4 linked regions of the Homo sapiens genome follow. The protein of the gene in region 1 interacts with the protein of each later gene in a biochemical or structural test. Each region holds a gene or a part of one and is shown on either strand. Other genes may lie near its edges. The genes, in order: RPS6KA1, DLG4, PARD3B and LIMK2.

Region 1 (7,022 bases):
TCAGGGAAGTCGTCTATTGGGCCTTTAGGTTCCATCTGCTGTGGTCTGGTGGGAATGGACTTGGGCAGGGGAGCCTCCTGCTGCCTGGATGGGGCCCACCATGCCCACCAGCTCTGTCCCTCCATCAGGATGAGGGCGTCCTCAAGGAGATCTCCATCACGCACCACGTCAAGGCTGGCTCTGAGAAGGCTGATCCATCCCATTTCGAGCTCCTCAAGGTTCTGGGCCAGGGATCCTTTGGCAAAGTGAGTCATGAGCCCATAGCTGTGAAGGCAACACTCGTCATGTTAGAGGTGGGGGTCAAGGGTCACCTAGGGGCCCAAAGGATCAGAGGTCACCTTGGTACCCAGGGAGAGCAAAAAGGTCAGCTTGGGGCTCAGAGAAGATAGAGGTCAGCCTGGACTCAGACCTCTCCCATCTTCTGCCCTGCTTCCTGCTCTGCCTTCTCAGGTCTTCCTGGTGCGGAAAGTCACCCGGCCTGACAGTGGGCACCTGTATGCTATGAAGGTGCTGAAGAAGGCAACGCTGAAAGGTGAGTGGGGACACCTCCCTGTGCAGAACCCAGGCTTGGCTGAGGGAGGCAGCCCAGACTTCAAGGGCCTTGGGTCTGGCAAGGGAGACAGCTCTGTCTTCAGGAGCACCTAGTTCAAAGGTGGAGAAACAGGCCTATTTCTCAGCTATCCCTCGCCAGCCAATCCTCCTCCCCCTAAGCCAAGTGCTAGTGACTGGCTGTGAAGGTCTGGAAGGTGGTAATAGGGTAAATGCAATGTGTTTGTCAGGGGGCGGGGCCCTCAACTACCAAGCTGGTCAAGCAGAGGCATTCTGACTGTTGATGCTAGAAGAGTCTGGGGGAGACCTCTGTGGCCCCTAACTCAGGGGCCTGAGAGAAGGGCGTGAGTGAAGAGGCAGGGAGCCCAGGGAGGCAGCTGGGCTAGGCAAGAGAGGGTGAGTCCAGGCAGGGCCACAGAGCTGGATGGCAGAGAGGTTCAGAAGGGAGCCCCGAGCCAAGGTTAGAGTTCTGGGGACTTACAAAGGGTGTGAAGATGGTTGGTAGTGGGCTTTGGGTTGGATACTGACCACTTGGCCTGGGAACCAGTGTGACCACTGACCCGGCAGAGTCATAGCCAAGTCTCTCTTTAAATAAGTCAAGGCCGGGCGCGGTGGCTCACACCTGTAATCCCAGCACTTTGGGAGGCTGAGGTGGGCGGGTCATTTGAGGTCAGGAGTTCAAGACCTGACCAACATGTTGAAACCCCGTCTCTACTAAAAATACAAAGAAATGAGCTGGGTGTGGTGGTGTGCACCTCTGATCCCAGTCAGAGCCAAATCCTAGCTGGGGAGGTAGTGGGGGCAGTAGGAGGCGTCAGCCTTAAGGACGTTATGGGTGGCTTTGGTATCCTAAGGCCAGCCTGGTGGGTGTGGAAGTCATCCCCCAGGAGGTATGGTGGCAGCTTCAGAGGGAGGAGAAAGATGAAAAGCCTGGGTCCCTGCTGTGAAGGGCTCACAGGCTGGGCAGGAGAGGCTAAGCATACCCGACAGTGTGGTGCAGCCGGTGCTGTGACTGGTGTGCGTGGATATCCGACGCGCTGGGGAGCTGGGAGTGGTGGTGTAGTCTTGTAGAGGGTGGGCCCAGAGGCCAAGGGGACACCTAAGGAGCGGGAAGCCTTGGAGGATGAGTGGATTTCTCTAGACCAAAAATGTTTGAGGAAGGGGACCCTGGGAAGGAGAAACTGTTTGCCTGAACTAAAGTGTAGAGGTGGTTTGAAAATGTAAGGTAAGCTGGGTGCTGTGGCTCATACCTGTAATCCTAGCACTTTGGAAAGCTGAGGCGAGTGGATCACTTGAGGTCAAGAGTTCGAGACCAGCCTGGCCAACATGGGAAAACCCCATCTCTACTAAAATACAAAAATTATCTGGGTATGCTGGTATGCACACCTATAGTCCCAGCTACTCAGGAGGTTGAGGCACAAGAATTGCTTGAACCCAGGAGGTGGAGATTGCAGTGAGCCGAGATCGCGCCACCATACTCCAGCCTGGGCGATGAGAGCGAAACTCCATCTCAGAAAAAAAAAAAAAGAAAAAAGAAAATGTAAGGTGACCAAAATAGTTAACTCCGGTGTGGTCCTTGTCATGTCTAATGAGGAAAACACAAAAATTAAAACAGAAGAAGGGGACCAGCTCCTGCAGCCCTGTGTGCTGACATAGAAGGTGTGTTGGAAGGCAGCTGCAGCTTCTACTTGTAGCAAGGGCCAAGGATTGTGTCCTGAACAAGACTCCGGAAAGACATGCAGGAGGAGTACATTGGCCAGATCTCCTAAGATAAGCAGCTGTGAGCATCAATTCTGGAATGGCAGTGACGAATGAATAGAATTCATACTAGATGGATGGACTAGTGAAGGCTTTGGGACTATGAGGCTGGAGAGGAAACTGCCAATCCAGTACATGGACCAAAAAAGCCTTTAGTTTTGCATTGTGTGTATTGCTCAGACATTTTGTCTGGTCTTAGTAAGCACTCCCTAGCCTTCCACCTCTCCTTTTAATAAAAGTCAAGGCTGGGTGCGGTGGCTCATGCCTGTAATCCCAGCACTTTGGGAGGCCAAGGTGGGTGGATCATTTGAGGTCAGGAGCTCAAGACCAGCCTGGCCAACATGGTGAAACCCTGTCTCTACTAAAAATACAAAAAAAATGAGCCAGGTTTGGTGTGTCTGTAATCCCAGCTACTCAGGAGGCTGAGGCACTAGAATCGCTTGAACCTGGGAGGCAAAGGTTGCAGTGAGCCAAGATCACACCACTGCACTCCAGCTTGGGTGACAGAGTGAGACCCTGTCCCATTAAAAAAAAGTCAAAGGACACATGAGAGGTCTCAGTCAAGGGGTAATCAATATTGTGATAAACTTAGTTGAAACACACTGCCCAAAATGAACCTAGGCAGCCATGTCCAAAAGCCTGTTCTTTTTTTTTTTTTTTTTTTTTTCTTTCCCGAGATGGAGTCTCACTCTATCGCTCAGACTGGAGGGCAGTGGTGTGATCTCGGCTCACTGCAACCTCCGCTCCGCAGGTTCAGGCAATTCTCCTGCCTCAGCCTCCTGAGTAGCTGGGATTACAGGCACATGCCACCACGCCTGGCTAATTTTTGTATATATATTTTTTTCTTTTTTGAGACGGAGTTTCACTCTCGTTGCCCAGACTGGAGTGCAATGGTGCAATCTCGGCTCATCACAACCTCTGCCTCCCGGGTTCAAGTGATTCTCCTGCCTCGGCCTCACGAGTAACTGGGATTACAGGCCCACGCCACCACGCCTAGCTAATTTTGTATTTTTAGTAGAGACAGGGTTTCTCCATGTTGGTCAGGCTGGTCTCAAACTCCTGACTTCAGGTGATCCGCCTTCCTCAGCCTCCCAAAGTGCTAGTATTACAGGCATGAGCCACCACGCCTGGCCAATTTTTTTTTTTTTTTTTTTTTGAGGCAGAGTCTCACTCTGTCACCAGGCTGGAGTGCAGTGGCGTGATCTCGGCTCACTGCAACCTCCGCCTCCTGGGTTCAAGCGATTCCCCTGCCTCAGCCTCCTGAGTAGCTGGGATTACAGGCACGTGCCACCAGGCTGGCTAATTTTTTGTATTTTTTACTAGAGACAGGGTTTCACCATGTTGGCCAGGATGGTCTCGATCTCCTGACCTCATGATCTGCCTGCCTCGGCCTCCCAAAGTGCTGGGATTAGAGGTGTGAGCCACCACGCCTGGTCCCAATTTTTGTATTTTTAATAGAGACAGGGTTTCACCATGTTGGCCAGGCTAGTCTCGAACTCCTGACCTCAAGTGATCCTCCTGCCTCAGCCTCCCAAAGTGCTGGGATTACAGGCATGAGCCACTGTGCCCGGCCCAAAAGCCTGTTCTAATCAGACTAGTGAAATCAATAAAACATGATACTTGGTGGGCTTCAATAAATTTAGAAGGCAACCTGAAAAAGAGAAAAGTGCTCCAAAGGAGAAGCACAAGCACTGTAGGAATCCAGAAGGCCCTAACCCAGCTTGGCAAATTAAGGAGCGCTTCCTGGAGAAGGTGAGGCCTAAGCTGAGTCAAAGAACCTGCTGAGAATCAGAACTGCCCAATAACTTGTATTATTTAAAAAAATAAATAAATAATATGAAGGGTGCCCACCCAGACCCATAGATCGGGATTTTAGGCCCAGGGATCCAGCTCACCAGGTAGCCGTTCTTACCAGCCCCGAGACCAGAATTTGGGAATTTTTATGCCAGATGGAAAGCAGAGCTGGTGAAGGCATGCCAGGGGGAGGTGCAGAGGCAAAGTCTGAGGATCTGACAAAGCAGAGAACCCTGGGGGAGCAGGTTGCTCAGACTGGCTGATTAACAGGTCTTGATGGGGTCTGGTGGGAAAAGGGACCAGAGAGATGGGCAGGGTGCCAAGGCCCCAGCTGTGGGCACTGCTGTGAGGGGTGGGGACAAGGAGCCAGCCAAGGAGCCAGAAACAGACTGGCAAGGAGGAAACCTGAGGATTGAGTGTCCCCAAAGCCCTGGGTGAGGGGGCTTTGGGAGCTCAGGCCTGGAGGAACAAGTGGAAAAGAGATCCCTTAGCGGGGGCTTGGGAGTGGCTGTGTTGAGTGTCTAGGCTACTGGTGACTTCCTTTCTCGTCTGGCCAGTACGTGACCGCGTCCGGACCAAGATGGAGAGAGACATCCTGGCTGATGTAAATCACCCATTCGTGGTGAAGCTGCACTATGGTAAAGCTTCTGGCCCTGCCTGAGCTCCTACCCCACCCATCCTTCGCCCTTGCCTGTGGTCTGTACACTGTCCCACCGCCTGCCTGGCAGGCCAAGGGAGCCAGGGCCGGAGAAGCAGATCATAAGGCCGCGCCGACTCTACCATTGCCTTTCTCCCTCTTCCCAGCCTTCCAGACCGAGGGCAAGCTCTATCTCATTCTGGACTTCCTGCGTGGTGGGGACCTCTTCACCCGGCTCTCAAAAGAGGTGAGCTGACATCTACTGCCAGAGGGCCCCGGGATGGAGCTGAGGGACGACAAGTCCTCCCATCCCAGGGCCCTGTACAGAATGTGTTTGGTATGGCTTGAACCTGGAACCACCCAGGCCTGCCTAGCAGCCCCTGGCCCAGGAAATACCACGCACCCTGGAATGGAGGCCATACGCTGGCAAGGTCTCTGAGAGTTTCTCCCAAGGAAACTCCAGGGAGCTAAGGGTTCCTCTCACCTCTGCACCTGCCTTCTTCCAGGGCTGCTCTGGGCAGAGGTGTGAAGATAGGGGAGAAGCCCAAAGTCACCCAGAGAGCCAGAGACTTTAGCAGTCATCTTGCGTATGTCATCCAAAAGGATTTTGAACCAATATAAAAGGATTTGAGGCTGGGCGCAGCGGCTCACGCCTGTTATCCCAGCACTTTGGGAGGCCGAGGTGGGCAGATCAGGAGGTCAGGAGATCAAGACCATCCTGCCCAACATGGTGAAACCCCGTCTCTACTAAAAATACAAAAATTAGCTGGGTATGGTGGAGTGTGCCTGTAATCCCAGCTACTCAGGAAGCGGAGGCACAAGAATCGCTTGAACCCAGGAGGCAGAGGTTGCAGTGAGCCAAGATCGCGCCACTGCACTCCAGCTTGGCAACAGAGCGAGACTCTGTCTCAAAAAAAAAAAAAAAAAAAAAAAGGATTTGAGCTAGAAAATGGGACCATTCGTACAATTCAAACTTTAAAGAGAATCTAGCTTTTTTTTTTTTTAATTGTAATTTTTTTTTTTTTTTCAGATGGAGTTTTGCTCTTGTCACCCAGGCTGGAGTGCACTGGTGGGGTCTCAGCTCACTGCAACCTCCGCCTCCCGGGTTCAAGCAATTCTCCTGCCTCAGCCTCCCGAGTAGCTGGGATGACAGGTGCACGCCACCACGCCTGGTTAATTTTTGTATTTTTGGTAGAGACAGGGTTTCTCCATGTTGGCCAGGCTGGTCTCGAACTCCTGACCTCGGGTGATCCGCCTGCCTCAGCCTCCCAAACTGCTGGCTGGGATTATAGGTGTGAGCCACCGTGCCCGGCTTAAATTGTGATTTTAATGTTTGAATAGGTAATATACATGATTCAAAAGAAAAATATTCATGAAGAAGTCTTCCTCCCACCCCAGCCCCCTCTATTCCCATCTATAGGTAAACATTTTTATTGGTTTCTTGTTTAACTTTCCCATGTTTCTTTTGCAAACAAATCCGATATATGTTCATTCCTACCCCCATTTCCTTATGTAAAAAGTACTATTCTGTATACACTGTTCTGTACCTTGCTTTTTTCAAGATAGTATATCTTGGAGCTCACTCCATGTCAGAACACGGAGAAACTCCTTGTTCCAGTTCATGGCTGCAAAGCACTCCATTATGCAGGGGAGAGGGCTGATTCCAGCCTTCTACTCTTGGACCCTAGGCCTGTTTCCCACCCCTTCTATTTCTGAATGGTGCCACAATGAGTGGCTTGCGTATTAGTCATTTCATACTTCAAATCCTTTGTATGATGAGAAGGCTATATGGCCTGGGGTTTCCAAGGGTCCTCCCAGGGTGGCTCTTCAGGACCAGGAAGCTGCTGACTGCCCAGTGCCCCAGCTCTTAAGGAAGAGGAGGTCCCTGCTGAAGGCCCCTCCTGTCTTTTGCAGGTGATGTTCACGGAGGAGGATGTGAAGTTTTACCTGGCTGAGCTGGCTCTGGGCCTGGATCACCTGCACAGCCTGGGTATCATTTACAGAGACCTCAAGCCTGAGAAGTGAGTGAAGCCTCCAGCCCCACCCCAGCCTCCCCAGGGGAGGCCTCTTCTAGGACAGGGCCATCCTGAGGTGGGTGGGCATGGCTTTCTCCAGAAACGTCTCCCTCTCTTGGGCAATCTGAGGGATGGGTGAGTGGGGTGGGTGGTAGTGCCAGCTGCCCAGTCACTAATGCTACCATTACCAAGGGCCAGGTACTTTGCATGCAGGTAATGTTGCCCGTCTTTTTTTGCTAATCTAGTGTGACATTTGAGATGCCACCTTT
Region 2 (7,741 bases), on another chromosome or scaffold:
ATAGCCTCAGTCTTTCCCCCACTGTATCCCCACCCCCACTTGTTCTGCTCCGCCTTCCGCCACCCTCGCCCGGCCCTCCAGTCCGCCACGCAGCTTCAGTCGTCGCCGGTTACCATGGCAACGGCGGCAGCAGCGCGGGGAAAGGGGGAGGGACGGGGGCGGAGTGGGAGAAAGAGATGCTCAGAGACGAGAGATTCTGGCAGAGATAAAGGCACCAAGAAAGACAAAGTGATCGCTGTAGAGTGGAGTTTGCACACAACACAGGGCCTAGCACGCAGTAGGCTTTCAATAAATGTTCCTTAAATTACTGCGGCAGGAGTCTAAATATAGGCAATGAAAGATGGAAGACTCAGGCAGAGCTGGGGAGCTCAACGACCGCAAAGCCTGAGCACTCCCTACCCCATCCAGCATTTGGGGAAGCAGGAGCCATGTGCCCCCTGCAGGCTCCTCTTGGGCTACCCTCCGCTGGCTGCCCTGGATAGAGATGAACCACAACTCCCAACAGCGCCATGGGCAGCAACCCTCTAACATTGAGGGATCTGGTGCCTCGGGGCCTTATGGGAGTTGGAGTCCCCACCATACCGAGGCTGACAAGTTTTCCAGCCAAGGAATGTGGCAAGCCTGGGTCTCCACGCCTCTGTAAACCCCAAATGCATGATCTGCTCTGTAAGCCTCCTTCCTTCAGGGATGCTCAACCCTGGGCTCCATGGAAGAAGTAGGAGTCTGGAGTGGGTAATGAATAAGGCCACCCACCCACCCAGAATAGCTGCCTGCTGGCAAGCCCCTCACCCTCGCTCCCATTTGTGTGTTCACGTGTTGGAAGCAGAGCCCACACATTCCAGCGGGCTTTCTATTTACACCTGGAATGCAGGGGACCACAGCCATGGAGCCTAAGGCCAAGTGACAGGCCTAAGGGCAGGAGACAGCGGGAGCAGAGGAAACCAGGCCAGAGAAACTGAGGCATAAAAATCCACCGAAACTACAGGGGATGTGGGGAAGAGGCAGCCTGGGAGAAAGCCCGAAACCCACAGAATGAAGGACAAGAAAGTCGCCCTGGTGGAGAGAGGGTGGGGGCTCCAGATCTAAAGGTCCTCAGCCCCCAATCTCTTCCAACCATCCTCACACGTGCACAATGCATGTGTACACACATGTGTGAGTTTGTGGCAGGGAACATGTGTGTCCTCAGCTCCCTCCCATGAAAAGCTGCAGTTCCCACTAAATATAACCCCCTCCCCAGCCTGTGACTCACCCGGACCCCGCCTCCCCCGGCCCCCACTTCCTGTCCCACCCCCCAGCCCCCAGCTGCCTGCCACCCGCCCAAGCCTCCCTCCACACACCAGGCATCCAGCTCTCCAGTCCCAGAGTCTCCAAGGAGAGCCTAGGTATCTGCATCCCACCAGGAGCTCGCCTGTGCTCCATCCGAGATCTCCTGCCTTTGCCAGGCTCCAACCAGAGGGACACTCTTGCACAGATCCCCATCGCTGCCAGCCCTGCCCTCCTCCTACACCTTTTCACCCCAGTAACCTCAGTAACTTCGGTCATAAGCCCTCAGGGACCCTTAAATCCAGGTGTCCTCCCCCACCTTGATCCCAAGCGTCAGGGGTATCTGGAACAGTCCCCACATCTGCTCTTCTCCCTCTCTCTTGATCAGGGCTAGATACAGTGTGGGAGGAGATGGGGATATTGGGCACCTGCCTTTGGGCCACCCCCAAATTGTGCACCACCCACCCGGTCCCCCTCCTCAAATCCCCTCTCTCCCTAAGCCTCTCATCCTCCTCCTCAGGGGCTGGCAAGCTCGGCTGCTGCAATCTTCTGCCTCCTATGGGAGTACCCCCAAATCCTTGCCTCACCTGGTCCATTCCCTCAGGTGATCCCATGCCAGGGCCCCAGCCCTCTGACAACTTCCAACTACCTCCATTCTATATGACTGAACCCTAAATTAACAGTTCCCTCAAATTGAGAGAGCATCCCTAAATGCAGCCACCACGAGATGCTTGTTCTAGAGTCTGAAGGCCCACCCCTTCCCTGCCAGCTGACACCCCCAGATCAGTCAGGCACTCACAACCAATAACCTTTACCCCATGCCAGGAGCCCCCCAAAACTGGACAAGGCCCTTGGAAGCCAGCTTTTCCCTGGGGAGGAAAGAGGAACCCCCCAACATAGCCCACCTTCCCACATACACCAGCAGGACTCCCTTATGAGCCAGGCTTCTCCTTAAATAAGTCTCCCTCAAACAGCGCTGATGAACCCCCAAACCCGCCAGGCCCCCCGAACCATGGAATATCCTAAATTTTCCATATCCCTACAGGTACAAAGGGATCACTCCAGGGGGCACCTGTGGCCAAATCCTGCATTTTCTCAGATGTGAACCCCAAAACTAAATTAAGACCCCCAAATACATCTTACTTCTGATGCTGCCACTCCAGGGGCGCCAGTCCCAGATAAGGCCTACTAACCCCTCCCCACAAACTCATACCCTCCCCCCAGTTTATAGCCCCCCCATCATGCTTACCTTGGTTGTCACTATACAGAGACAGTCCATGTTGGGGGGCCTGGCCGCGGCGGCGGGTAAGGGGCTCTGACTTCATCGGAGTTTCGTTCCTCCCCTCCGTGGGTTCTCACCCCTCCCCCCTCCGCACCCCACTTTTGCAGGGGGGGCCAGGATGGGGGGAGGGGTGAGAGGGGAAGGAGGGGGTTGGAGAAGGGAAGGGGAGGGGAGCGTGGGAGGGAGGGGAAGGGGGCCCTAAAAGGGGCTCCCCAGTGGAGGGGAGGGGGCTTGGGGAGCACACCCCGATTCTCAGGAGGGGCGGGGGCACCGGGGGCTGGCAGCCCCGGAGTTCGGGGGCTGGGGCATGAGCTGGGGTGGGGGAGGGGAACTGGATTTCGGGGAGCCCCGGGGTAGGGGGGGGTCTTGCCAAACGGCCAGGGGCTAGGGGCCGTGGCGGGGGAGTGGGGTGGGGGGGTTGGAAACGGCAGCGGCCGAGGGAGCCGTGGAGCCGAAGAGGGAAGGGGAGAGAGGAGGAGAGAGGAAGCAGGGGGAGGGAGGGAGGGAGCTAGGAGCCAGAATGGGGGGGGTGCCTTGGCAGAGTTAACTCCTTCTGTGCTGGCAGGAACCCGGATAATGGGAAAGGAGATAGAAGCAGAAGCACAGAGGCCCCTGAGGCAAACATGGAGACCTGGCCAGCCACCAGCGATGACAGCAAAGACGATGAGGCTGGATTTCATTTCTTAGAGAAGGAAGCATCTATAGTTGGGCTGGGAGCACCCACGGTTATTTGAATACGGGAGGGAGGCCTCTCGGCAGGCGGTAGGGGGTCGGGTGTGAGGGAGGAGCTGAAGGAGGCAATCCCTGGGGGCCTAGTTCTCCCTCAGGTTTCTCAGGGGGAAACCTAAAAAGTTAAGCCCTAGACTCTTTAGTGCCTGAAACTGGGGCAGCCAAAGAAAACGAGGAAGAAAGGGAGAGTGGGTACAGGACCACAGAGAGTGCATTCTCGGTGCCCCAAGTCCCTGGGCCACTGACTCAGGCTTTTGTCAGCAGGGCCCCCAAGATTCCAGGTAATATTAGTGATATTTGGCTCACCCCTCCAGCCCTGCCTGCCCCTCAGGAAGTTAGGCGCTCGCCCCCACCTCCTTACCTGACTCTCTGAGAGGGAAGCCTCATAATAGTCCAGGATGTCTGTCACAGGAACAGAACTGAGTTACCTCCCCACCCCAGGCCTCTCCAGGCACATCACCCCTGTCATCACCGCTGCTGGCTGGCTGGCAAGGGAGGAGCCCTTTCAGCCAAGGCTGGTCCACACTCATGGAGGACACCATAGGCAGGACCCTGCATGGTGCTCCAGCTTGGACCAAATGATCTCTGGGCTCCCAAACAGCCCCCGAAGTTCAGTAATGGCCCTTGGAGGCCCAGGTCCCTCAGAAAACGGGCTACTCACCCAGCAAGGCCTGGAAGAGGTCGCTATGCAGCACTGTGAGGAGTGGGGGTGCCCACCGCAGCAGTGGGGGTGCCAGGAGCCAGAGGGCTGACCTGGGAGCTAGTGAGATGCAAGGAGAATTGGGACAGGGAAGATGCCAACACAGGAAGATGAACACACTGTCACTTCATCTCCCCAGACTGTGCCCTTCACCCCAGCCCCTACGGAAAGATTTGGGGAGAAGGATCTCCGAGCCCCAGCCCCCCACTTCGCTCCCAGACCTCCCCTCCACAAGGAGCCCTGTTTTTCACCTCTTGGTCTCTGGGACATCTCTCTCTTCTCTCACTTTAATCTCCCTAATCCTCCAGGATTGGAGTTGAGCTGCTTCTCCCCACTAAATTCCAGCTGTGAGTAAAGTAGGCCGTCTCTGAGCCGACCAGCTGTCCCATTCCCCCAGGTCCCAAGGCACCAGCACCGCCACCATCTTGCTCCACACACCCTGGCCCCCTCTTCCCATAGGCAGGCAGAACCTAGCCACGCTCTCCTGAGAAGCCAGCAAAGAGGGCCTCCTCACAGAGGGCTCCAGCAGCTCAAAAAGAAGCTGAGCCCAGCTCTCTCTCCTCCTGGGCCTCCTCTCACCCCAATGAGAATTGCAGAAAAAGGGGTAGAAATTGTTTGGGACTTCCTGCCCTAGGGCTAGAGAAGTTGGGGTTTTACGGGTAAGAGGCAGGAGAATTCCTGCAGTTCCTCTCAGGCCCGGGAGGAATCCATCTGCCTGGGCACATGGTCTCTGGAAGGAACAGAGGGCAAAGACAGAAGGGAATGTTCAGGAAGGTCTCAGAGGCTTTACTAAGGGAGGGGCAGTGAATCTGGGGGGGTCTTCCTACTGTGAAACTGTAGCTGTTCCAAGAGTTAGTGAATGGCCTACATCTCAGAAGAATACACTTAGGGTACTCACACCCTAGCTTGGGTGCCCCCCACCACTGTACCCTCCCTTTTGTGTTGGCCGAGATAGATTTCATCAGGAACCCTAGAGTCTGTCTTTCCATGTCTCTGCCTCTGCCATCTACCTTACACTTCTCTTTCCCTACTTTTCCCTTCTAACCCCACCGGAGAAGCCCTCCCTTCAGTCCACCTCCATCCCTCTGGCTGCAGTGACTTAAGCCCCTTCCTCTTCTGTCCCATCCTATCCCATCACCCCGTCGGAGGACTAGACTCTAGGTCGGACGGGCGGGATTAAGGAGTTTGGGGGAGACGAGGGACGCTTGGAGATCCCTCTAAGTCAGCGGAACGCAGGGCCGGGCTCCAGGGAACTACAGCTCCCAGCATGCCCCGGGGCCCGCAACCGTCCGCCGCCCGGTGCACTGTGGACGATGAGTCAGGGTTAGGGGCGCCAGGACGTGGGCGTGCAGGACGCCAGAGCTGGGTCAGAGCTCGAGCCAGCGGCGCCCGGAGAGATTCGGAGATGCAGGCGGCTCGGATGGCCGCGAGCTTGGGGCGGCAGCTGCTGAGGCTCGGGGGCGGAAGGTCTGTGTGTGACAAGAGGGACGGTGGGCAGCGGCCCTGGGCACCGGGCCGGCACTGAACCCCCACTCCCCACAGCTCGCGGCTCACGGCGCTCCTGGGGCAGCCCCGGCCCGGCCCTGCCCGGCGGCCCTATGCCGGGGGTGCCGCTCAGGTAAGTCACCGCAGCCTTGGCAAGGGGGTGTGGGAGCGGCGGTCCGCTTCGGCGCCCGCCATCGGCAGGGATCTCCCTCTTGGTGCCAGGTACCTGCCTACTGCTCAGTCGCCGAAAGTAGGGGAAAGGGCAAGCCAGGGTGCCCTAGGGCGAAACTAGGGGAAAGGTCACCGCTTCGCGCCGCCTCCCCGCGCGGCTCTCGCCTGTTCTCCCCTTGACACAGCGGAAGTCCCTTCCCTGAACTTGCTAACCGTCTCTTTTCCCAGCTGGCTCTGGACAAGTCAGATTCCCACCCCTCTGACGCTCTGACCAGGAAAAAACCGGCCAAGGCGGTAGGTAGCCCCGAGGCCAGGTGGACCTTAGCCAGACCCAACCAGAGCCCTGAAATTTGCCTCTCTCTGCCCAGGAATCTAAGTCCTTTGCTGTGGGAATGTTCAAAGGCCAGCTCACCACAGATCAGGTGTTCCCATACCCGTCCGGTAAGGGAAGGGATAATCAGAGCTGGGTGGGGCCAGGGTGGTTTCCCCTGCCAGCCTGGCCTGACCAGCCTGTCCCCCACCCTCTGCAGTGCTCAACGAAGAGCAGACACAGTTTCTTAAAGAGCTGGTGGAGCCTGTGTCCCGTTTCTTCGAGGTAAGGAATGACTCGGGGCTTGGTCCCTGGTGAGGTGTTTGGAGATGTTAAGCTCAAAAGGAGCCTGGATGTGGGATCCTGTGCCTTCCCCAGGAAGTGAACGATCCCGCCAAGAATGACGCTCTGGAGATGGTGGAGGAGACCACTTGGCAGGGCCTCAAGGAGCTGGGGGCCTTTGGTCTGCAAGTGCCCAGTGAGCTGGGTGGTGTGGGCCTTTGCAACACCCAGGTGAGGGCGCCCTATCGCCACATCCCAGTATGCCATACCCCAGCTTGGCAGACTCAGCTCTTTTGCCATAGACCTAGAGACTAGGGCTAAGGTCTCTTCTAAGCACCTGCCCTGGGTGCCTGTGGGATGGATGTTAACTGTCCAAACATAACACAATTTACATGCAGTCCCCTAGGCCTGAGCCATGGGCCTCACCCTGGTTCCCAAGTCCTTACAAATCTCTAAGTTGGGGATTGCCTAACAATAGACTGACTAGTAGCAAGTCACCCTCCTACCTAGACCTAAGACAGACCAGCATTCTCTGCTGTGCCCTTTGCACACCCCACTTCTTTTCTACACACTGGGGATGGCCCAGGTCAGGCACTGCCCTAGGTCAGGAACTGCCCTAGGTCAGGAACTGCCCTGTTGCCCACACTCTCCTGTTAAGGTCAGGTCCCCCTGCAGCCAGTGACAACCCCAGATTCCTGCTTCCCCTCCAGTACGCCCGTTTGGTGGAGATCGTGGGCATGCATGACCTTGGCGTGGGCATTACCCTGGGGGCCCATCAGAGCATCGGTTTCAAAGGCATCCTGCTCTTTGGCACAAAGGCCCAGAAAGAAAAATACCTCCCCAAGCTGGCATCTGGTGAGGCAACCCTAGGAGAGCCAGGGATTGGGGGGCACACTGGGCTTGGCACAGATTAGGCCAGTTGGCACTTAGATTATCAGATGGCTGAGCATTTCAGTTGGGGGAAGGTTTTGGGGAGGCATCACAGTGTGCTGGTTGGGACATGCAAAAGAACTGGATACTCCCAGGTGTTAAGGGGGAACTGCCTGCTGGAGGGATGGGGAAGTGGGCCGAGGGGACTTTGAAGCTCATCAGAACTTGGGGTAAAGTAGCTCTCTCCCCAACAGGGGAGACTGTGGCCGCTTTCTGTCTAACCGAGCCCTCAAGCGGGTCAGATGCAGCCTCCATCCGAACCTCTGCTGTGCCCAGCCCCTGTGGAAAATACTATACCCTCAATGGAAGCAAGCTTTGGATCAGGCAACCTGCCTCCCATTTCTCCCCTTCTCCTCCGCCCAATTCCAGGCCCCACTGCTCCCCGTCCTCCACGCCCTGAATATCCCATTCTTCCACAGTAATGGGGGCCTAGCAGACATCTTCACGGTCTTTGCCAAGACACCAGTTACAGATCCAGCCACAGGAGCCGTGAAGGAGAAGATCACAGCTTTTGTGGTGGAGAGGGGCTTCGGGGGCATTACCCAGTGAGTGAATTTGGGTTGGGGGAGCTTAGGACTGAGGGGCAGGA
Region 3 (7,022 bases), on another chromosome or scaffold:
GAAAAAGATGAAGAAAGAAAATATTATACATGCTTTTGAAATTAGGTATGTTTTAAATGTTTGTGACGTTGAATCAGAGAAATTAGTAAACATTACATATTTGCTTTCTGAGGAGTAAATTTTTGTTGTTAGAAGACTGTCTTAGAAAAACAATATGCTTTTTGGACATGGCCTAAAGGATGCTTCAAGAATCACTAATCGTGCTCAGAACAGGGACAACTGAATTTTCATGCCTATTTGGTATTAAGTTGTAATACAATATTGCTCTGTTGATATCAGGTTTGCAATGATTCTTTCCACTTCCCAACATGTCTTTATTATTTTCTTGTTTAAAATAATCTATACACTCCGAAGAAAAGAATAAAAAAGTACAATTTCAAGAAATTTAAGTTACCTAAGTATACACTTAAATCTATTCTTTGATACAATTAAATGAAGGGAGAATTAACTAAATTAGCCTTAATGCATTTCTCTTAACCAATTTTACATGTTACAATAATAGAATGCTATTAGGCATAATTTAATAATTACCTTTCTTTAGGTCAATCTTAATTTTCTTTGCATTTTTATTGCTGCCAAATCCCATGAGAGGCGAGAGTGAGGGAGAGGATGGTTTTCCTCCCAGCCTTGGTACTCGGGGACTCTTGTTTTGTTGCAGGGAAGCTGATGCATCTGTTTCAGGACTATCGGTTCCTGTGAGATTTGCTGTCTTTAGTCCCGATTTTCCATGGACAGGAGGCGGCACTTTGGTTTTCAAAACGCCATCATTATTACCAAAAATGTTAAGAGAGCCAATGACTGACTTTTCATACTGTTCACGGTTTTGTGGAGGAAGCACGTGGAGGAGCACACTTGGAGATTTCATTGCCTGGCGGAAGACATCTTGAGCCCTGGAAAGAAAGTTGATAAATGTATGATGACCCTGCTTTGAGGTGCAGCATCTTCTAAAGTACCCCAGGAGGATGGCAACCAAGAGCAGCACAGTGGCTAATCATAGGAGACACGATCAATATTCCTATCAGAATGACTTTGCCAACTACATACTAGTTACCACTTACTATTTGCACTAGGTGCCCCTGCACTAGCTTATACATGCATTATTAGCATGCATCCTTCTCTAATTTAGAAAGCACATTCGGTAAGTATAAATAGCTTTCATTTCACGGACATGGAAGTTGAGGCTCAGAGAGATGAAATAATTTATCCAATGACCCACAGCTTTTACATGTTTCTAAAGATGAAAATCTAACCAGAAGTGATTACCAAAGTGAATATAAAAAGCAAAATAGATATTTTGGATCAGATCATTAGTTAGGTTTCTTTTAGGACATCCTTCTAAAGTACAGATCTTCTCTAACATGGGTTGTGTTACACAAGTTCAAGTTTGACATCCATGTTTGCTCATGGAGACATTTTGGCAGGTGCTTTGGCTGTGCCAAAATGTCTCAGTGGAATTTCAATCCAACATGCACCCTTCCTGTTACTCTCACACAGAGCAACTGTGTTTTTCACTTTTATGACCTAACACTTTGTGTTCTTCCTCAAACTTCTTATAACATTTTCTTCTTCCTCATGCCTCTAGATGCCCTGTGCCCAGGTCAAACAACTACCTTTCCCACTCTTTCTTGCCCAGAAGATATAAATGAAGGCGTTAAAGGAAAGCTCTTTAGAAGCGGCTGGTTCAGTAGAGAGACAAAAACTTTTATTGTTCTCCTGTTTCTCTTCCCTATTTCTTGAAACTCAGAAGTGACTGAGGAAACTCAGCAGCCATCTTGTGCCCATTTTTCCACTGAAGGATAGTAGCCACATGGCGAGATGGCAAAGCAGAAAACGGAAGCTGCCTGACCCACTGGCGGCTGTGCAGCTGCCGCACTAACTGTGGAGTGCCCTCTTCCACGTTTGCTTGTTGCTAGGAAAAATTAATGTTAATCTTGTTTCAGCTATTCTTATTTCAGGTCTCTGTTCCTAGCAGCCACAGCACATAATAACTAATCATAATCCCAACTGCAATCTGATTCCTTAAACCCTACCCCGCACCCCCCTTTCTGAAGTGCTTAATTCTGCAAATTGTTAGGGGAGAAGGAAGATTTCACATAGGCCTAACTCCACCTAACTCCTGTGGTCAGTTCCCCTATGTTATTTTTGCTTGCATAGGAATCAGTTTCTACTCCATACTAACTCTATACTAAATTTTTATGAGCCTCAGTTTCCACCTCTATAAAACAGAAGTAATAATGATTGCTTTGCATAATTATCAAGTCCTTGTGAAAAAGCACAGTAGTATATTAAAAATTATTACTAACTATAGTTTTGTCTATCATTCATTATTTTAACACAATAGATTCTTCTAAGGTTTCATTTCTTTTCATACTTAGCAGCCAGTACCCACTTTTCCTCGACCCACAACCACTCATCTTTGTCCACAAACACGCATACAATATTGACAACTAATGCCCAGCGAGAAGATGTATTAGGAGCTGTTTTGGTCAGAAACAAGAGGGTGGTGATGACTCCCAAGGATTATTAGTACTTAGTCCTTTGGTCCAGAATCCCACTGCAATGCCAACACACATTAAAAAAATATGCATCAGATTACTATACACTCTAATTCCTGGGTACAGGAAGCTATTCCCTTAACATTTTCACATGCAGAAAGATGATTTCTTGAGGGAGACAGTATTATTTATTTATTTATTTTGAAGACGGAGTTTCTCCCTGTCACCCAGGGTGGAGTGCAAAGGCGCGATCTCGGCTCACCGCAACCTCTGTCCCCCAGGTTCAAGCGATTCTCCTGCCTCAGCCTCCCAAGTAGCTGGGATTACAGGCGCGTACCACCACGCCTGGCTAATTTTTCTCGTACCTTTAGTAGAGATGGGGTTTCACCATATTGGCCAGTTGGTCTTGAACTCCTGACCTCATGATCTGCCCTCCTCGGCCCCCCAAAATGCTGGGATTACAGGCATGAACCACTCCGCCTGGCCAGGAGACGGTATTTTATTTTTTCTGTTTGTTTCTATGATTCGGTGAGTCCTCAGACATCTCTCACAGATTTTTTAGTTTAAGGAAGACTGCTGACACCAAGAAAGTTAATTAATAAGCTGAACCAACAGTCTGTGAAAAGAGCCGTTAAATACCAGTTTAAGTGACCCATAGCCCAAGAAAAACAAACCCGTTCAACGACGCCCCAGTAAAGACAGCCAGGCAGGAAGGCTTGTGATATTCTGTAGTTTAGCATTCTCAGACCTGCCAGAGACATGTGTGGGCCACCTTTGAGTAGGCTAAAACATTAGAAGCATTCGAAAATGGATATCCTGGATCGTTCAAAGGGAACTGACTAGAAATTCTACCTACTATTTTGATCATAATGAGTTCAGTAATGCTTATAACCATGCTAGGGATCAAGAAAGTAAATAAAACAATGAAAAAATGCTTACTGAGCAAAGGTTTTGTCTACGAGATCCACATTGTTGATTTTTACAATACATTCATTTTCGTGAAATAGTCCCTCCCGCTTGGACCTGCTGTTGTCTTCAATGCCTCGGATGAAGAGTCCTAGAATCCTAAATGCAAAATTTAGATTGAAATATAATTACTGAATAATAAATGCTAATTATTTCTCCACTTGCAACTATTCAGAAATACATATTGATTTCTATTTACAAAAGAAATTTTACTTTATATTCAGGCAACTGTTTGTTATTTTAATCCCTAATCCAAAAAAAGCCAAAACTGACTACAAGAGAAAAAGCCCTTCTAGATAAATATGCATAAGTACCAACATCAATCTGCGACTTCATTTCTCATGCTTGCAGTAAACTTATTGAAAGGCTAGTTTACTGGAGTTGACACCAAAGACTTGTGGTTTGGAGAAGGGCATCACACCTGACTATAGTAAGTCTGAGTTAGTGCCAACGTGGCAACGTGATGTTTAGCAGTGGGAGAGCATTAGGATATTCACAGTAACATTTTTGCAGTCTTACTACCTATTCTAAAAATTTGCATTTTAAGAAGTAAAGAAACATTTAAGCTCAGATCATATTACTCAGTTTAGAAGGAAGCTGGATCCCATTTGTTGGTGCTACCAAATCAAGTATGTGTTGGGTGTTTCCTGTGTGATCAGGATGGAGGAGTATGAGACAAAGTCATAGGACCAGGACCAGGTAATTTCACTATACATTTGGGGGACAGCTGAAGTCCAAAAACTAAAGACATTAACAAGCCTAGAGCCTTCAAAGATTTGAGAGCTAACTAGATGGGAGACCAGTGCCACACACAAAGGCTTTGAACAAACAGCCAATGAACTTAATCTGATGGACCTGGAGGGGGGCATCTAGCAGACCCCGCTTCCGAGTAGGGCAGCGACATGATGAAGGCAGGCTTTGGGAAGAGTTGTCCAAAATTTCAACCAAGAAGAGGCTAAATTAGAGAGGATACAAAGAGGCCTCTGGATTTTTGTGGCTGTAGCTTAGAATCAGGAGGGTTGGAAGAGAAGGAAAGAAGAAAGAAAACTATAGCCACTAGAATTAAAATATGTGTGTGTGTATGTGTGTGTGTGTGTGTGTGTACACACATACATACACAATTCTGTTACATATATAAACCAAAACTAAACCAAAAACCGTAAGAAATGGAACTTATACATATTTTCATTATTTCTTATTTGTGGGATTTCCCTTCTCCTCGTGATGTGACAAGGCTTAGCTGTGTCCAGAGTAAGAAAGATAGATATGTCCTGCAAGAGGAGTCTGCTACATTTGGAGAAACTGTGATCTGCACTTTATCAATACTCTTGCTTTTCGACTTTGTCACTCTCTTTTGTATAAAATCCATGTGTGCTATTACAAAATACCTTCACATTAAATTTCAAACCTAAATAAAACATGAGTACATTTTATGTGTAAATAACAGGGTCAGCCATAGAAAAGGGGAATCTACAATGCAAGTATTAGAGAAAGTAGTCCTCCTGTTTGGAGTGGCCACGGAGTTGAACCTCTGTCCCCTTAATGAGCTCCCATCATCTCAAGACCTCAACAGGCATGGCAGTGATATTTGGGTCTCACTTCAAAATGTTAAATGAATACAGCACGCTGCTGCAGGAGAAAGAACAGCAAACAGCCATGCCATCTACTGCAGGGAAGGCTCAGGGTCATAGGCACAAGTGTGCAGTGGGGTCTTGTGGTTCATTTCCTAGTTCCAGTAGGTTAGCAAATTAGTCATATTCTGTGTTACTTTAATCTTGAAACACAGTATTAAAAATGAAACTATTTGACACATTAAAATAATAGATAAAACTTATGGGTTTTTTCCCTAAATTAAACAGCATCCTAAGAGTTCACATTTTGGATTTTTGTTAGGGTGGATTCACAATAACTTGATTCATTAGGAGGCTCACATGTGGTTATAAACGTGTTTATGTAAGTGATATTTTTTTAACAAGCATTCAAGTCTTCCTTTAATTTAATTCAGTACATCATCAGTCATGTAATGTTACTCCCTAGGATTTAATTTCACATTTTGGGAGATGAATTAATTCTTTCGGGCCACTGGGTTGCAATTTAGCTGGCATATTACAGCTGGAGTATGCTATGTGAACCTCACTGATCTAAATAATCTAACTTTCCATGAAAAATTTATTGACAGAATAAGCCCAACTGTAAAACCCATGTGTCAGAGGTAATTTTGGTAAAATGTAAAACTGACTGATTTTATTAGTTTGGTCCCTGGCAACAAACCACTTCTGCCCTCTCTGCTCCGTGGAAGGGATAGATTCCCTCCAGTTTGATTTCATCCAGACCAATACAAGAAGGCTCAGAAAACAATACCTCATTATCCTCTTTGCCCTGAACTGGTGGGCTGTGGTAGCTGTCTCATTTGGGACCAAGACTCGCAGAATTTAAAGATTAATGCTGTCGAGGAGTTATAGGCCGAGACTAACCAGTTAATTTGCATTAATGAACAGTGATAAAGGATGCTGAAATCCACAGCCTCACAGAATTAGAGGGGTAACAATTCTTCTTGCTCTTCTAATTATCATTTAGGCACCAACATCTTCTCCTTGCCCCCTTCCTGTTCTTTTCCCAATGTCACACAGCCTCAGTGACTCTACCAGCTTAGAATTTTGGTTTGAACATCTCTTCTCACAGTCTTTATCAGCCTTCATCCAGTCCTTCTCCTTCTCTCTCCTGTTTAGCTGTCTTCCCTATGAAACTGAGGCATATTATGCATCTGTACTGAAACGAATTAGATTTCATGTTTTTAATTCACAAAAACCACATTGATTTTAAAAATCTGAATAAAATTAAGTTGCATTTTAGTTGCAAGAACTTTGGTGTTTTTTTTATGTTTGCTTTGTTTTTACTGGGAAAGCCAATGGCCCTCAATACAAGCAGCATTCAGCACCCCTCTGCGATGGTATCTAATGAATTCATTGAGGCTTTATCTAGCAGAGCAGCCACTATAATTTACTTATTAGGATGATCTAACTTAGATTAGGTTTCTTATTCAACAACAGGTGTGGCAACATTTTTCTAAAAGAAAAAAAAATAAAAAAATACATTGGAGGCAAAGCCAATTACAGTAATCTTAGTAAAAAAATTAAATGTAAATTCTAATTTAAAATAATGGCACAAACCAATAAATGGAAGGAAATTAAGAGCAAAGTATACCACTATGACCTTAACGAAGCCCCTGTGCTCACACAGTGAAACCATATGGCATTATGAAGTCAGACACTTGTCTGACATGCTCTATACACAGTTGCATCTAGACACATGGGTTGAGTTAAGCGTGCTGTTTCAGCCTGTACTCATTACTCCTTAACTTTTATTGGCTCATGTCTCCACTTCCATAGCATTTTTAATGTTTTTTAATTAAATTTCCTTCCTATAATACTGGTGGATAGCAAAAAATAAATAATAGAACTATTTCACCAAGTTACTGAACAGTTAACCATGAACTTATAATAAAACTACATTTCTGAATCAGGCTTTTTGGTTTTAGCCAAAATAATCATCAGACTGATG
Region 4 (7,022 bases), on another chromosome or scaffold:
TGGATCACCTGAGGTCGGGAATTTGAGACCAGCCATGACCAACATGGAGAAACCACATCTCTACCAAAAATACAAAATTAGCCAGGCATGGTGGTGCATGCCTGTAATCCCAGCTACTCAGGAGGCTGAGGCAGGAGAATGGCTTGAACCCGGGAGGCAGAGGTTGCAGTGAGCTGAGATCTCGCCATTGCACTCCAGCCTGGGCAAGAGTGAAACTCCAACTCAAAAAAAAAGAAAAAAGAAAAAAAGTTGTCTACACATCGCTGCCCTCATTTCCTCACTTCCCACTTTCTGCATAATGCACTGCAATCTGGCTTCCACCCCCACCATTTCTCTGAAACTGTCTCACCAAGGTCAACAGTAACAGTAACTGCTTATTGCTAAATTCAATGGACCCGCTTCAGTCATTCTTTCAGCAAATATTTATTGCATGCCAACTATGCATCTGACACTGTGTTGGGGAAAGAGGAGCAAACAAGAGAGAGATTAAACACAAAGCAAATATTAAACAATAATATAATTATTTATTGAGGGCCGGGCGCAGTGGCTCACGCCTGTAATCCCAGCACTTTGGGAGGCTGAGGCAGGTGGATCACAAGGTCAGGAGTTCGAGACCAGCCTGGCCAATATGGTGAAACCTTGTCTCTACTACAAATACAAAAATTAGCCAGGCATGGTGGTGGGCGCCTGTAGTCCCAGCTACTCAGGAGGCTGAGGCAAGAGAATTGCTTGAACCTGGTAGGCGGAGGTTGCAGTGAGCCAAGATCATTCCACTGCATTCCAGCTTGGGCGACAGAGCGAGACTCTGTCTCAAAAAATAATAATTATTATTATTATTTATTTATAATTGGGGCAAGTGGTACGAAGATATCAAGTTCATAACTAGGAAAAGGGCGGGCGGCCAAAGTATTCCTTGAGGAAGTAATTTCCAAGCTGAGCTCTAAAGGATGAATACAAATTAACGGGGCAAAAAAGGGGGGAAGGAAGGCTAACACTGGAGAGGGGGGACATGTGCAAAGGCCCTGGGGCAGGAACAAAAACTTCTCACACATCATTAAAGTTGGCTTTTGCTACCTCCAAAGGGCTAGCAAACCATGTCTGGCCCCTGGTCTGCTACAATCCTTCAATAAACAGTTACTGAAAGAGCAAATGGTCCTTACAATGTGGTCCCAAAGGACCCTTCTCTCTCACCATTCCTTACAAAAGAATGCTCTAGTTACATTTTGACCTATTTTCTATTCCTGCCACTTTTATTCATGTACTTGCATCCTGACATTCACACCTCCAGTTATTCTCTATGTATAAGCTTCTCTATCTTTTCCCTTAATCAAAAAAAAAATTTTTTTTTTTGAAACAGAGTTTTGCTTTTGTTGCCCAGGCTGGAGTGCAATGGCACAATCTCGGCTCACCACAACCTCCGCCTCCCAGGTTCAAGTGATTCTCCTGCCTCAGCCTCCCGAGTATAGCTGGGATTGTGGGCATGCGCCACGACGCCCGGCTAATTTTGTATTTTTAGTAGAGACGGAGTTTCTCCATGTTGGTCAGGCTGGTCTCAAACTCCCAACCTCAGGTGGTCTGCCCACCTCGGCCTCCCAAAGTGCTGGGATTACAGGCGTGAGCCACTGCTCCCGGCCCCTTAATCAAATTTCTATCCTTTCTTTAAAGTTCCCTAAAATCAGGCAGTGTTTGTTTCATTTTGTCTATACCTATTTTACATAATTTGTTATTTAATTACAGTTCACTGCATATGTTTCTCTCTCCTTCAGTCCCTCTCTCTCCACTCTCCTCCCCCACACCCCATTCAGAGAACTAAGGTGTAAGAACTGTATCTTTATTATGTTCTTATCTCCAGGGCCTAACCTTGGGCCTGGTGCAAAACAGACATTCCTTTGTGTGGTGAACCCAACTGAAAATTTGGATCCAACTGCCAGCTATAAAAGCAATTTCCAAAGATAAGTTCCAAAGGTCAGCACAGATGATTCCACTGGAATAACTGTTCTGGCTCCCAGATTACCTATGAGTAGTCTCATGTGGATAAACCTGGCCTCAGTTTACCTGTTATGCATTCACACTGCTTTTCTGTTAGGAAGTACCTGAGCAAAGATATTCACCCAAAGCACACAGCCTCCTACGCCCAGACCCTCTTCAAGAGAACACTCTTGACTTCTTTAGCTCTCTTACAGTCTTAAAAATTCATTGATCTATTCTCTTACCACCTTTATTCTAGGAAATGTAAAAGAAATGTAATACTGTAATGCAAAGTCTTAGGGATTTCTGTGAAGCCTAGTGGAGGATCAATCCAAAGTCCAGTCAGCCTGGGAAGTTCTTTCTTAAGAAAATATCTCATTGTACCAGGCTGTTCATTCTCTCCCTCTATAGTGTTTACCTCTCATATTTGCAGACTTATCAACAGTGGCTACTGATTGTTAAGAGTCCAGAAAAGAGCCGGGCGTGGTGGCTCACGCCTGTAATCCCAGCACTTTGGGAGGCCGAGGCGGGTGGATCACGAGGTCAAGAGATCAAGGCCATCCTGGCTAACACGGTGAAACCCTATCTCTACTAAAAAATACAAAAAATTAGCCGGGCATGGTGATGGGCGCCTGTAGTCCCAGCTACTCGGGAGGCTGAAGCAGGAGAATGGCATGAACCCGGGAGGTGGAGCTTGCAGTGAGCCGAGATCGTGCCACTGCGCTCCAGCTTGGGCGACAGAGCCAGACTCTGTCTCAAAAAAATAAAATAAAATAAAAAAAAGAAGAGTCCAGAAAAGGAGCTTGATTTAAGTAAATGTTCACAGTACCTTCAAACAATAAAGGACCCTTATTAGGTGTTTAATAAACAGAAAACTGTGTTTTCAGTTATTATTGGAATTTGTTGCTTTTAATAAGTGCAACTGTGCAACGTAAGGTGAGCACTGCAACAAATGTCTCATTATAGGGGTTCTCACCTTTAAGACCTTTTCAATCTTGGTATAAAATACATTCACTTTACATTCACTTTATGAATGCTTCTCTCTCCCAACTTAATTAGCAATGTGGCCCTCAAACAAATGTGAATCCACTGGGGCAGGCGCCAAAAAAAAAAGAAGGAAAATAGACTTGCCTAACCACCACAAAGCTACTGAAAGATGGTCCAGGAGGGATTCAAACCCATGCTCAGAGACTACCATGCCAGTCATATTTTTAATACCCTATGCAGCCTCAGACAAGTTGAGACTTGCTCAAGAACACACAGCTATTCAGTGGAAGGGTTGGCCTGGTATCCCAGCTCAGAGCCAATGCAGTCCCCACAATGTTCACCTTAAATTTGGTCTAAGAGCTTGGTTTCTGCAAATGAGTCCTTTTTAGGCTTCAAAATGGTGAGAAATCCTCAAGCACTGAGAGCTCATGAGACTCTAATGCCTAGCTTAAATCAACATCCTATCCTTTCATTTAAAAAAATCTTTGAAGCTTCTCACGTTCCACCAGACAACGAGAACCAGGAACAAAACTCAGCCAATTCAGTGCAGCATAAAACAAGTATGGTAACCCCTGGGCCCCTTGGGAACTGGCGGGTCAGGTGTATAAATCCCACTTGTTCTGGGACAAAGCAGAAAGCAGAAGGGCAGGGCAGCAGCTGCTGGGGAAAAGCCAAGAGAAAAAGATCACATTTTAATGAAGTGACTATCAAAAAGACTAACAGTAAGGATTAACATGCCTCTAGATACTCTCCCTGTAACCCAAAGGGTTTTCTTCCTCACTAGCTTACCAAATTTTACCAAAAGGAGTGTCTCAGGAAAAAAAAAGATTAGATGATTTTTAAAAGAGCTTTCGAGCTTCTCTAAACCTTGGATTGTTCTTTTGTAAAAGGAGGGATCAAGTGATTTCTTCCAGCTCTGAGAGACTGACACCAAACCAAGGGCCTCTCCTTTTTCAGGTTAAGGCACAGACACAGGTATCTCAGAAAGTTTCCTTCTTGCTGTTATTCTCTTCTTCCCTTCTTTGGTTTATTTGGAAAAATTTGTGAGGGGTAAATGTATGTGTGTTTGAAACCTGAATCTGTCACTGTTTGCCTCTGTGTCCTTGGGCAAATTATTTGACCTCTCTGAGCTTGTCTCCTAATCTTTAAAAAGAGGATAATACCACCTGCTTTACAGGATTACCAAGTGGATTAATAGAAATAATGTAATAGATGTGAAAATATCTCCCATGGTGCCAGGCACTTAGTTGGACCGATTTGTGACTAACTTCTCTTCCTTCCTGCGTGTGTATCTAGGAAGTTGGCTGGGGAAAAGGTTAAGCTGAATACAGAAACTTCTAAAATCTGAAGGGAAGGTTTTCAAAACAAACTCAGCAAACTTTTTTCTATGTGCCCATGTACAAGGCACAGAGTAGGCCAGGAATTACTGGGGCCCTTGGTGTGTACTCATGGGGTGTGAAGGACATGGATATACACAGAAATAACATGTCAGAGAGGGACAAACCAGGTGCTACAGGCAAGGCAAACTCAGTACATTAACAAAATACACTGCAGTGACAAATGAGACAGATGGTTCTTATGTCTTTCAGGCCACCCAGACTGCAACTTCCAACCAGAAGTTCACTCAACTGTGAATGAGTAGGCATTTTCTTATCTATGGAGGGCCTATAAAAATATCTTTATCAGAGAACTGGTTAACCAATTGATATATTCTCATACAGCAGTTCTCTGCCAGTTGTCAATGATAGAGGAAAAAAACTACTTTATGCCAGACAATGTCCTAAGCACTACGCAAGTATGAGCTAACTGAATACAAAGATCCCATGAGATCAGGACTAGTCTTAAAGAACTATTATTGTTCTCATTTTACGGAAGAGGAAACTGAAATACTCAGCTAATAAATGTTTGAGCTGGGATTAGACCACAGGTCTAGTCTCCAAAGCCTGTCTTTTTTTTTTTTTCTGAGACGGAGTCTCGCTCTGTCACCCAGGCTGGAGTGCGGTGGTGCAACCTCGGCTCACTGCAACCTCTGCCTCCCAGGTTCAAGCAATTCTCTGCCTCAGCCTCCCGAGTAGCTGGGATTACAGGCACCTGCCCCCATGCCCGGCTAATTTTTGTATTTTAGTAGAGATGGGGTTTCACCATCTTGGCCAGACTGGTTTGAACTCCTGACCTTGTGATCCACCCACCTCAGCCTCCCAAAGTGCTGGGATTACAGGCGTGAGCCACTGCACCTGGCTCAAAGCCTGTCTTTAACTACATTTTAGACTTTCTTTCCTGGACAAAACAAATTACAGGCAGAAAGACATGATAAAAAAGAATCCCAGAAAGAATGTTCAAGGAACACTTTAATGAAACCAGGCATTGGTTTCATGTTCTAGTTACTATTCAATGTAAATTAATAGGTAAAATAGTCTAATTCTTTCTACTATATAAAAATAGATAAAGGATGAGAAAGAAGGTAGACTTGTAAGAGACTGCTACAGTTTCAGGTCCTCTCATTGAAATGAGATGTGTGTGATGGTGGGCCCTATCAGACCCGCTCAAGGTTACACTAACAAGAAGGCAGCCCTGTTCTGGGAATCAGCTCAGCCTCCAGAAGATGCAGAAAATCCACCATGAATGTGGAAAGCCTAATACAGCCCCTTGATCATGACGGATTTTTATTTAGTTTTGAAATCTTGTGGTCATTTTGGACCCTACCCTGCTCCATCACATATCCAGGACCATCCAAGTCACCCTGGCCTGCCTATGTCAGGAGGCATCTTTTATTGGTTGGTGCCTTCTTCATTGCTACCACTAAGACCTCATCTCAGGGCCCACTATACCCACCTCCAGATTGGTGGCCCTGTGCCCACATCATGAGTCTTCCTTTCTCTAAACCTACGGTGCCTACTGTAGACTAGAAACTTCCAAAATCCTCAGCCTGGCATTAAACCCTCTAGTCCGGTTGCACCCACATTCTCAGCTGTACCTTCCACTTCCTATGAATCTTCCACCTCCCAATCCTTGCCTCTACCACACGTATTTGCTACCCTTTATGAAGACCTGAAACTTGCCTACTTTTGTCTCCTACTCCCAAAGTTTCTTCCCTACTAAGATATCATCTTCCCCACCTTCTTTAAGCCTATTTAAGATTTCTCAAGTCTTACCCACTTCAAGAAGTATTCCCTAACCAAAACTGATGGCCACCCTGGATACCCTGCTATTCTTTAAACATGCCAAACACATTCCCTGACAACTCACTTCTTCTATCCCCTTACCCTACTTCACTTCTCTTCAATGGATTTATCCCTGAATATGATGTTCATACATTTACTTGCTGTCTATCTCTCCCCACCAGAACATACACTACATGAGGGAAGGGATTTGGTCTATCTTGTTCCTTGCTGTATCCCTAGGGGCCAAAAGAGTTTAGCACATAGCAGGAACTCAATATATATTTGTGGAATAAATGTTTGAAGAGAATTCTCCCTCATCTTTGAAATTCTATAATGTTATCATACGCAAGCCTTATAACAGCTTGTCTTATCAATTTTTTTCTTTTTTTTAAGAGATGGGGATCTTGCTATGTAGCCCAGGCTGGAGTGCGGTGGCTTTTCACAGGCGCAATCCCACTACTGATCAGCATGGCAGTTTTGTTTTTTGCCTTAATTACCTTAACTAGACAGTAAGTTTCTCAGAGGCACAAACTATATATAACTCATTTCCACAAATACTTATTAAGGGCTTACCATGTGCCAGACCCTGTACGTCTTAAGCAGCCTGGAATACTGGAAAGAACACTGCAGAAGTCTTACCTTGGTTCTGGCTCTACCACTAGTTGAGTGACCCTGGACAACTCCGTTTTTTTTCCCTGAGCCTCAGTTTCTTCATAGGTAAAACAAGGAGACTATACATTATCTCAAAACTCTCTCCTGGCTCTAACACCTGTTAAAATTTATAAGAGGTAAAACTTGGTCCTGCCCAGTGCCACAGACATCACAGGCACTCAGTAAATATTTGATTTGTTATCGATTCTCCGGTTACACGAGGAATCTGAGGTGTCTCAGAACATGGTTTGAATG

What was found.
Region 2: the proteins of RPS6KA1 (region 1) and DLG4 interact in a test that uses a peptide from one of them, tested with the Homo sapiens proteins (2 studies listed by BioGRID and IntAct).
Region 3: the proteins of RPS6KA1 (region 1) and PARD3B interact in a test that uses a peptide from one of them, tested with the Homo sapiens proteins (2 studies listed by BioGRID and IntAct, with this or other methods).
Region 4: the proteins of RPS6KA1 (region 1) and LIMK2 interact in a test that uses a peptide from one of them, tested with the Homo sapiens proteins (2 studies listed by BioGRID and IntAct).

Annotation. Positions count from the first base shown.
Region 1 is NC_000001.11:26,546,739-26,553,760, forward strand, and holds part of RPS6KA1 (ribosomal protein S6 kinase alpha-1), read left to right. Parts: intron 1-128; coding exon 129-245; intron 246-450; coding exon 451-532; intron 533-4,658; coding exon 4,659-4,739; intron 4,740-4,905; coding exon 4,906-4,985; intron 4,986-6,652; coding exon 6,653-6,759; intron 6,760-7,022. UniProt on the Homo sapiens protein: Serine/threonine-protein kinase that acts downstream of ERK (MAPK1/ERK2 and MAPK3/ERK1) signaling and mediates mitogenic and stress-induced activation of the transcription factors CREB1, ETV1/ER81 and NR4A1/NUR77, regulates translation through RPS6 and EIF4B phosphorylation, and mediates cellular proliferation, survival, and differentiation by modulating mTOR signaling and repressing pro-apoptotic function of BAD and DAPK1.
Region 2 is NC_000017.11:7,214,606-7,222,346, forward strand, and holds the start of DLG4 (disks large homolog 4), read right to left. Parts: upstream 3,023-7,741; 5' UTR 2,569-3,022; coding exon of another isoform or gene 2,543-2,568; coding exon 2,513-2,542; intron 1-2,512. Other genes in the region: ACADVL (very long-chain specific acyl-CoA dehydrogenase, mitochondrial), read left to right, coding at 2,541-2,568, 3,111-3,213, 5,517-5,592, 5,859-5,924, 5,999-6,071, 6,161-6,225, 6,319-6,453, 6,933-7,077 and 2 more. UniProt on the Homo sapiens protein: Postsynaptic scaffolding protein that plays a critical role in synaptogenesis and synaptic plasticity by providing a platform for the postsynaptic clustering of crucial synaptic proteins.
Region 3 is NC_000002.12:205,115,459-205,122,480, reverse strand, and holds part of PARD3B (partitioning defective 3 homolog B), read right to left. Parts: intron 3,561-7,022; coding exon 3,435-3,560; intron 891-3,434; coding exon 532-890; intron 1-531. UniProt on the Homo sapiens protein: Putative adapter protein involved in asymmetrical cell division and cell polarization processes. May play a role in the formation of epithelial tight junctions.
Region 4 is NC_000022.11:31,215,293-31,222,314, reverse strand, and holds part of LIMK2 (LIM domain kinase 2), read right to left. Parts: intron 1-7,022. UniProt on the Homo sapiens protein: Serine/threonine-protein kinase that plays an essential role in the regulation of actin filament dynamics. Acts downstream of several Rho family GTPase signal transduction pathways.